Linked DNA regions of Homo sapiens: region 2 is reported to be linked to region 1. The links are microRNA targets in miRTarBase. Many come from high-throughput screens and were not tested one by one. Region 1 holds a microRNA gene; the other region holds the end of a gene's coding sequence.

Region 1 (4,386 bases):
ACTTTCAATCACAGGTTGGGACTAGTGTGCTAGTATATATGCCTCTCTGCCAAAAAAAAAAAAAAAAAAAAATATGACACTTAATAGAATTCAACTAAATATGCCTGATTGGAGGTGAAAACATCTATGTGACAGATAGCATGTGTTTATCATTGGTCATATTTTTAACTATGGGGTTTTCTCTGATGCTAGTTATGATGAGAAGGAGGAAACAATAAATCAGGTTGCATCTGGATAGTGCTACAGGCACAAAAAAGAGAATCATGTCTTTGAAAAATGTTTGACATTGTGTTTGACTCTTATGAGTCAGTCATAATATAACACTTTATAAAAGCTAGACTTGTCCTTTCAGCTGTTTTATATAGTATCCTCTTAACTTACAGCTTAAGTTAGTTGACTCATTCAGTTTGAAGAATAAAAGGAATAAATCCTCAAAGCATTCTTATCTAAAAGAGAAAGGAATTTTGTTATGCTAATAAGTATCATAGAAAATTTTCCTTTAAAGAAAAGTTCAGCAGGGCCAGTGCCAACTGTTGTGTTGGTAATTGTATTGAACCTTTTCATAGAATTAGTGGGGATTTGAACTCTTTTTTAAAAGTTATAATCTAAAGACTTTTTTATAGTTAGCTCATCATTAATTTTTATGTCAAAACTTGCAGAAGGCCAGGCACGGTGGCTCACACCTGTAATCCCACCACTCTGGGAGGCCAAGGCGGGTGGATCACCTGAGGTCAGGAATTTCAGACCAGCCTGGCCAACATTGTGAAACCCTGTGTCTACTTTAAAAATACACAAAAAAAATTAGCCGGGCATGGTGGCGCACACCTGTAATACCAGCTACTCGGGAGGCTGAGGCAGGAGAATCGTTTGAACCTAGGAGGCGGAGGTTCCAGTGAGCTGAGATGGCGCCACTGCACTCCAGCCTGGGCAACAGAGTGAGACTGTCTCAAAAAAAAAAAAAAAAAACTTAACAGAAAAGTGTGCATTTATGTTTGTATGTGCCCTAGTGTAGAAAAGTAAAATGTACTGGGAAATTAACATGATAGTTTATTGTTTTTGAGTTTTTTTACAGGTATATAGCAATTACTGTCTCATAATTTACATTTTTATATGGAAACATACTTCTGGGTTTCCTTTTGGTTTTTATTTTCTTACCTCTCTACATTCTACTATCCCAATCTGATTAAAAATGAGAAATACTTTTTCATATCTCTTATATTTGTATTTCTTGTCAAACAACACTTGCTTACCCCACAGTGTCAAGAAGCATGTTTTTTTTTAATTACATAAAAGGGTGAAACTAATTATTCAACCAAATAATGAAAACACTAGTAGACTTGGAGCAATTTTTTTTCACTGTGGCACAAGTAATGTTTAAAAGTTTGTATTTGAACTTAAAGAAATTTTGCCCTAAATTAACAAGCCCAACTGAGCAAAGTATTTTTAGACCAGATAGGGTATGGGCAGTAGAAATACAGGATCTTTCATTATTTTTCCTTTGGTGGATAGGGAGGAGGATGGGGAAATATCTCAAGGATAAAATGCTCTAGGTCTTTTATCCATGTGTCCCAGTGGACCACAACTGAAATCAGGACTAACATTACTGCTGGGGAAATGAATGTACTAGTCTTTTGTTATGAATGTGAAACTACTGAACTGTTCATTCAAAACAAGGTTGAGTAAACCCCTGTCAACAGAAACAGAAGAAACCCTGGCTACACACATAAGACTTTCTGAACAATGCACTGTATAATGGGAAAGAACAACAAAATAAAAGTCAGAATCCTGATGGCCCTTAGTCATTTGTAACTGGTGTTAGGCATATCACTTAAAGCCACTGAGTTTCAGTTGGACTCATTTGCAAAGTATGGAATTTTTACTGTGTTGTCTGTTGAAGCCTCTGTGTACTGTAAAACTCCATAATTCTTTGTGTCTCATGTGAGTCATTTCTAGTTCTAAAAGGTAGAATAATAGAGAATTGGTTTGTAACAGCTTGGCAACCAACTGTCAATAACTGGAGTCAATGAAAGCAACTATTTCAAAAGATCAGATTACTTACCAGTTTCACTAATAAAGATTTATTACTTTAAACCTTTATCATAAAATGTATGCTTTGAATACTGTGAAGTACACTGCATATAAGGAGTGTGGTATAGTATAAAGAAACTTTCTGCAGGTAGTAATTATAGTGAAGATTTTAGGTTTACAAAGCCCTAGCTGTTTTCTGTGTAGCTTTTATTATTCTTATGACTCTTGACAAGTTTGTAGCTTCACCATATACATTTAATATTTTGCAATAATTGGCCTTGTTCCTGAGCTGTTGGATTCGGGGCCGTAGCACTGTCTGAGAGGTTTACATTTCTCACAGTGAACCGGTCTCTTTTTCAGCTGCTTCCTGGCTTCTTTTTACTCAGGTTTCCACTGCTTTTTTGCTTTTTTTAATGCTGTATGAAGGTGTTAACATTTGTTTATATTTTTCATTAATTGTAATACCTTTAAATCATGCATCATACTCAGAAATAGGGATTAGAATTTAAGTGACATCTTTGGCCTAATATAATTTACCTGTTAAAAATTTGTGAAAGCTATTGCTTATTTCTTTTCCAAAGTAGATTTGGATGACAAATTCAGTTTGGTTTTGAGCTTATCTAAAAAGCTTAATGTTTTAAGCATACCAAACTCATTAGCAGAAGTCAAATATGTCTCTCCCTATTGCTACACAACTTTTTAGGGATATTGTTATATATGAAAGCATGACATCAAACGGACCTAATACACCTAAATGCATTTGAAGCTACTTGGTCTCGGTTCTTACCAACGATATAATTTAATTTTTTTTTCCAAACGATGATGTTGTTGCATACCTGTGGAAAGCAAAATGATTCTGTGAAACTATACTTTTAGTTTTGCAACCATTTGATAACTTCAAAGATTATCAATGTATTATATCTTTAGTCTTAGCTTTCCAGATAACCCAGAATCATATGGTTCCAAGTTGATTAAGCTTTGTTACCAGCAGACTATGGTAGGATCCTGATGAACGACACTATGGAAGAAACTTGTTAGGATAAACAGTCTTCAATGTGTGCATATTGTTGACAGAATTTGAAGGCACAAATTTAAGAGTAACTAGGGTGTAAAAGGCGAGCAAAGAAAAGTCAGCACTACTGGGTAAGCAGGTGAGGGGGCTTATTGATAGGAGAGTCGGCTATGTCAAATAGGGACTCAAGGCACAAAGTCAATTTCTTTACTGACAACTTTCAATCCAAGTAATAGGAATTTTGTATTTGTAAATTACTAGGTAGTGGCTCTGGCTATTCTTGTTTTTTCATTGATTTCTGTGAGCATTTCTTAGTATGTATTGTGTGATTCAGCATAGATTCAGACATTGTATAATACCTACAAATCCACCTATTTCCCTTTTCCCTTCTCCATTAACCTGCCGCCACTGAAATCTGGAGCCAAATATATCTGGTAAGTACCCACAGATTTCCTTGAGTTGTATAGACTCTTCCATGGAATAGTTCTTTAAATAGCTGTGAGCAATAAACTCTGTGTGACTGTTTTTGTTAGAATTGGTTTTTGTATATGTATATGTTTATTTCAGGCACAGGAGTGAGAGAAGAGGGGATGAGAGATGAGAAGGGATAATCAAGTGTGATGGCAATTGCATCTCCTTCCAAATACACCCATGGGGCTGGCTTTAGTTGAACTTGCCCACCTACTAAAATAGTGCCACAGACAGAAGCCCAAGATTATAAGCTTGAGGTTTTAACAATTTGGTCTTGTAGATGCCTAGTTACAAATAAATTTGGCTTTAGTAAAATGGCTCATCTTTAAAAAAAAAAAAAAAGAAAACTACCTTCACAGTGCTTCTATTGTACAAGCACAGTCTGGAAAAAAAATTAATAGGTACTATTAAGTGAAATAACCTTAGATTCATGGGTATTCTAAGCATTTCTTTAATACTTTTTGTAATTTTTCTGATTATTTCTGTGTTATTAAGAATGCTTTCCTTTAGAACAAATGCTAGTTCAGATCACCTATATAAAATAAAATCAGCCTGTTAATGCCTGTTCAATACTTTTGTGCTGAGCACTGCATTTCCTTCCTGCTCTCTTCTTGGTTAAAGTGAGAGTTAAAAATAGAACATTCTGTGGAGCCCTCCAGGGAAGTTCCTGAACCATCAGTTTATATTGTCCTAGTTCTCTTAGCTTGCAGAATTGATTGTGCTTTCCTCTGAAAGTGCTGAAAGAAATGGGATAATATTGCAACAGTGCAGTCCTTTAACAAAACAGAATGGTAGTGTTTTAAAAAAAAAAATCTATGTTGAGATCTGGATATTTATTTTGTTGTTTGGTATCACTTACTATTGGCATTTCTTAC
Region 2 (4,386 bases), not on the chromosome of region 1:
TGGCGCGCCACTTCCGCTCGGTGCTGGAGGACAGCGCGCTCGTGCTGCAATACCATGCGCGGCACCACTGCCCCGAGGCGCGCGCCGCACAGGACTGCCGCGAGGAGCTGGCGCGGCGCGTGGCCGACGTGGTGGCGCGGGCCGAAGCGGAGGAGAAGACCCCACTCTTGGTGCTGGACGACGTGGAGCTCATGCCGCGGCCGCTGCTGGACGAGCTGCACGGCTTCCTGCAGCCGCAGCGCTCCCACCACTTCCACAACGCCATCTACGTGCTCCTCAGTGGCGCGGGTGGCGCCGAGGTCACGCGCTTCGTGCTGCAGAACGCGTCCCGCGCGCTGCCCCTGCGCCCCGACGGCTTCCGCAGTGCCGAGGCCGCAGCGGCGCAGGCGGAAGAAGACCTGCGCGCCAGCCTGCTGGCTGTGCTGTCCCGGGAGCATCCGCTGTGGCAGGCCGCGGCCATCGTGCCGTTTCTGCTGCTGGACAAGCGGGATGTGGTCAGCTGCTTCCGGGACGAGATGGCGGGTGAGGGCTTCTTTCCTGACCAGGCCCGCGCGGAGAACCTGGCCGCGCAGCTCAGCTTCTACCGCGTGGCTGGCCGCGAGTTTGCCGTCACCGGCTGCAAGCAGGTGGTGGCCACGGTGAACCTCCTGTAGTGGAGGCGCAGGACGGGACGTTTGGGTTGATGGCGGCAGTAGGAGGGCGACCAGGGACCTTGTGGGCTGGTGCAGGCCCCTGAGGTTTCTAGTGAATTTGTGGCTGCCCGGCTGGTGGGTGCGGATCAGCTTGGAGCTCTGCTTCCAGGTCCACACCCGCCTCAGAGTCCGGAGTCTGTCCCTGGGGGCGGCAGGACAGCAGCCACCTCCCTCCCAAACTTGCCCATTGCCCTGCTGGGCGTCCCAGGCATGGTCTGGTGCGTTCTCCCTGTGGCCCCAAGAGGTGGGTTCCCATGGTACAAGGATGATCTCAGGGCCAACAATTCCCGGGGTCACACAGCTGGGACGTGACCCCGCCTCTTGGGGGTGGTCGCGTGTTGCTCAGTGCTGAAGTGGGGTTCTCATTCCGGCCCCCCTGGAGATGACCCCGGAGGAGGCCACAGCCAACCATGACAGTGCTGGGGCTCTGGCTGCCTTCTCCACCCACCCCACCCCTCACTCAGGTCGTGTTTTCAGGAGCTCAAGGCTGGAGTGTCTTGACAGTAAGGGGAGGGGAGCGGAGGCGGAGGCGCCTCAGGCAGCCTCTCCCCCTCCTTCCTGGACCCCCCAACCCCGGGCCCGCCAGCCCTGGCTTGGGCTTACTGGGTGACCGAGAGCCCGCGGGGCAAGCGGGAGGTGCCTAGGCCTCTCCCCATCCCCCTCTTCTCCGCACGTGGGACCCTTAGCCCGTGGCCAGTCCCCTGGTCACCACGATTGCGCGACCTCCCTTTCCCTGGGGCCTTTTGTGCCCCGAGTTCCGCCCACCCGCACCCTCTGCGCAGAGCGCCCTCCCCACGCCAGTCGACCCCACACCCCACACTCCCCACGCGCCGCCTCCCGGAAGCCCTCCTGGACGCCTCCCGTGGATGGGCCCACCGCGCCCACGGGGGCTTTAGGGGAAGGTGCTTTGGGCGTTTTTTGCGCCATGTCTCCTCGGGGCCGGCGGTTGCCTCGGGACGGTTCTCGCCTCCTCCCACAGCCCCGGTGTCTGGGACGCACCCGGCAGCCCCGCTGCTGCCGCCTTGTGGCGCGCCCGGCCCAGCCGGTGGCTTCTGTGGTCGCCGGGGGCTGAGCGCGCGGCTGGGCCCTGAGTCCCCCAGGCCGCCCCGATCCTCTGTCCCCGCCGCCGGCCCCGCTGCAGTCCCAACCCGGGCCTGCCCGGGAGGAGCGCAGGGGCGGCGATGACCAGTCCCGAAAGGGGCTCAGAGGGCAGCGAGGAGGTTTCACGCCGGTGCGGGGCGCCGTCGAGGTGGGGGCACCGCGAAGGTGGAGGCGGGGCCGCGCCGGAAGCCCCGAGTCGAGCGCACACGGCGGGCGCCCCTGGCAAGTGGGACTCCTCCGGCCCCGAGGCCTGAACTCAGCCCGGAGACCGCGCCCACCAGCGCCGGTGTCCCCGGAGGGGCCCCGCTAGTTCCCTGAGCAGAGGTCCTGCGGCTTCCCGGAGGGTGTCCTGTTCTCTCCCCCGCCTCGCATCCATTCTCGCCCTGGTGGTTGGTGTCTGTGGTCGGGGGCGAGGGCCGTCTAGTGGAGACGGGGATTCAGGCCGCTTGAAAGTCTGGGATCTCTGGGCGGATGGCAGCGGCTCCGCGGAGCTCGAGCTCGGCGCGCAGGTCCTGGGCCCAGGGCGGGAGCGCTAGCGAGAGGGCTGCCCCGTCCTGCCCAGAGGGTCCTGAGGACTCCCGCTGCTCCTGGAGTCTTGGGGAGGGGTCCGGCTCCACGGGGTGGGGGTGGGGGCTACCAGGAAACCTTTGCCTCCTGGGGCTGTGCAGGACCGGCTAGCCAGCGCTGGGAACCAGGGCTGAGTTCAGCCCAGCTCTGTCCACCCCAACCCCAGGGCTAGGGGAAGGAGCTGGGAGAAGGAGCCCCACCTCTCCCAGGCGAGTATCTGTCCCAGGAGCCCACACAGAGGGACACCCAGCTCTGGTCTGGCCTTCGTGTTGGCTTCAAGGTGGTAACAGAGAGAGCTGCAGAGTGGGGGTGTGTTTGCCAGTCCCTGCATGGGTGAATGTTGGGGTGCCCACTGCTCCCCAGGCAGGACCCCCAGGACTGTCAGCTCCCCTTCCCACAGAGCACCCACCTGGAGGTGTCACCTGCCGGCAAGCGTGGGCCATTCATCCACCTGTCAGTCAACAACACCCGCTGAGCATCGGCTTGTATCAAAAGGTCCAGACCTAAGGGGAAATTTTATCTCTTTCTTTCTTTCTTTCTTTTTTTTTTGACACAGAGTTTTGCTCTTGTTGCCCAGGCTGGAGTGCAATGACACGATCTCGGTTCACTGCAACCTCTGCCTCCTGGGTTCAAGCGATTCTCCTGCCTCAGCCTCCCGAGTAGCTGGGATTACAGGCGCCCGCCATCACGCCCGGGTAATTTTTTTGTATTGTTGGTAGAGACGGTGATTCACTATGTTGGCCAGGCTAGTCACGAACTCCTGACCTCGTGATCCGCCCACCTCGGCCTCCCAAAGTGCTGGGATTACAGGTGTGAGCCACCGTGCCCGGCCTCTTTTTATTTATTCCTAAAATATTACCTTGAGGCCAAATTCTGCGCTTAAGGAGAATGTGCACCAAGTGCTGGGGTGGGGGCTGGTAATAAACGAGGCCACAAATCATGCTTGTTAATAAATTGTGTGGTTCAAATCTGACGACCTACTGTTTGGTTTGTTTCTTGTCTGTCTGGTCTGTTAATAATTGAGGAGGATGCTGAAATCTTTCCCTAATTGTAGATTTATGGTAGATTTATCCATTTCTCTCTAAGCTTCTATTTAATAGGACATGCTGATCGAGAGTTTTGTTTTTTGTTTTGTTTTGAGAAACTTCTGAATGGGGAAGTGGTGTGGACCTGGAGGCTGATGGAAGGATTGGGGCTCACATGCAGTCTGCAGCTCAAACATCCGGGCTTTCCAGGAAATCCATAAATAACTAAAGTATTTTCTTTAATTGCCCTGGACAGGTGCTGAGGGCAGATGACCCAGGCTGGACATGCGGGAAGTTGCCAGCTAACCAGATGATCCCAAATGTCATAGCTGCTCTCCCTCATATGTGCAGAAACTGTTTCTGTGCAGTTGTCTCTGAGTTATTCTTTGACATCTGCCATGTGTCATTACGTAGTAACCCTCGTGATCTGTGTGTGCACATCATAATGACTTTTTTTTTTTTTTTTGAGACAAGGTCTCGCTCTGTCACCCAGGCTGGAGTGCAGTGGTGTGATCTCCACTCACTGCAGCCTCCACCTCCTGGGTTCAAGTAATTCTCCTGCCTCAGCCTCCTGAGTAGCTGGAATTACAGACGCCCACCACCACACCCAGCTAATTTTTGTATTTTTAGTAGGGACTCAGTTTCACTATGTTGGCCAGGCTGGTCTCGAACTCCTGACCTCAGGTGATCTACCCATCTCAGCCTCCCAAAATGCTGGCATTACAGTTGTGAGCCAACGTGCCTGGCTTCTCTTTTCTTTTAATAGAGACAGGTTCTCTCTGTCATTCAGGCTGGAATGCAATGGCGTGATTGTGGCTCACTACAGCCTCGACCTCCTGGGCTCAAGCGATTCTCCCACCTCGGCCTTCCAAAGTGCTGGGATTCCAGGCGTGAGCCGCCGCGCCTGGCCATTCTCTGCATTTTTCAAGGTCAGCAACACTGCATCCTTCCGACCACAGCCAGGAAGAGTTTTCTGCTTTTAAAGACCCATGTGACTAGAT

The links. The annotated mature microRNA hsa-miR-128-1-5p reads CGGGGCCGUAGCACUGUCUGAGA and lies in region 1 at 2,328-2,350, shown strand. An mRNA with a match to its seed (bases 2 to 7 or 8) in the 3' UTR can be bound and repressed. Matches are read on the target gene's strand: a 7mer-m8 pairs with bases 2 to 8, a 7mer-A1 pairs with bases 2 to 7 and ends in A, and an 8mer does both.
Region 2: the mRNA of TOR4A is a reported target of hsa-miR-128-1-5p. Seed matches in the 3' UTR shown: 7mer-A1 at 926-932, 7mer-m8 at 1,061-1,067, 7mer-m8 at 1,820-1,826 and 7mer-m8 at 2,032-2,038.

What each region holds. Positions count from the first base shown.
Region 1 is chr2:135,663,084-135,667,469 of GRCh38, forward strand. MIR128-1 (microRNA 128-1) reads left to right here and starts at 2,314; the gene lies at 2,314-2,395. The region is part of intron 19 of R3HDM1 (R3H domain containing 1); the gene reads left to right. It overlaps LOC124907893 (a long non-coding RNA gene), which reads left to right. Exons shown (of 2, transcript XR_007087245.1): 1 at 1-3,474. RefSeq lists an enhancer at 1,632-1,731.
Region 2 is chr9:137,279,309-137,283,694 of GRCh38, forward strand. It overlaps TOR4A (torsin family 4 member A), which reads left to right. Exons shown (of 2, transcript NM_017723.3): 2 at 1-3,333. The coding sequence ends at 653. Among named protein-coding and RNA genes, the nearest start is that of TOR4A, 3.8 kb to the left of the region's middle. RefSeq lists a silencer at 1,644-1,883.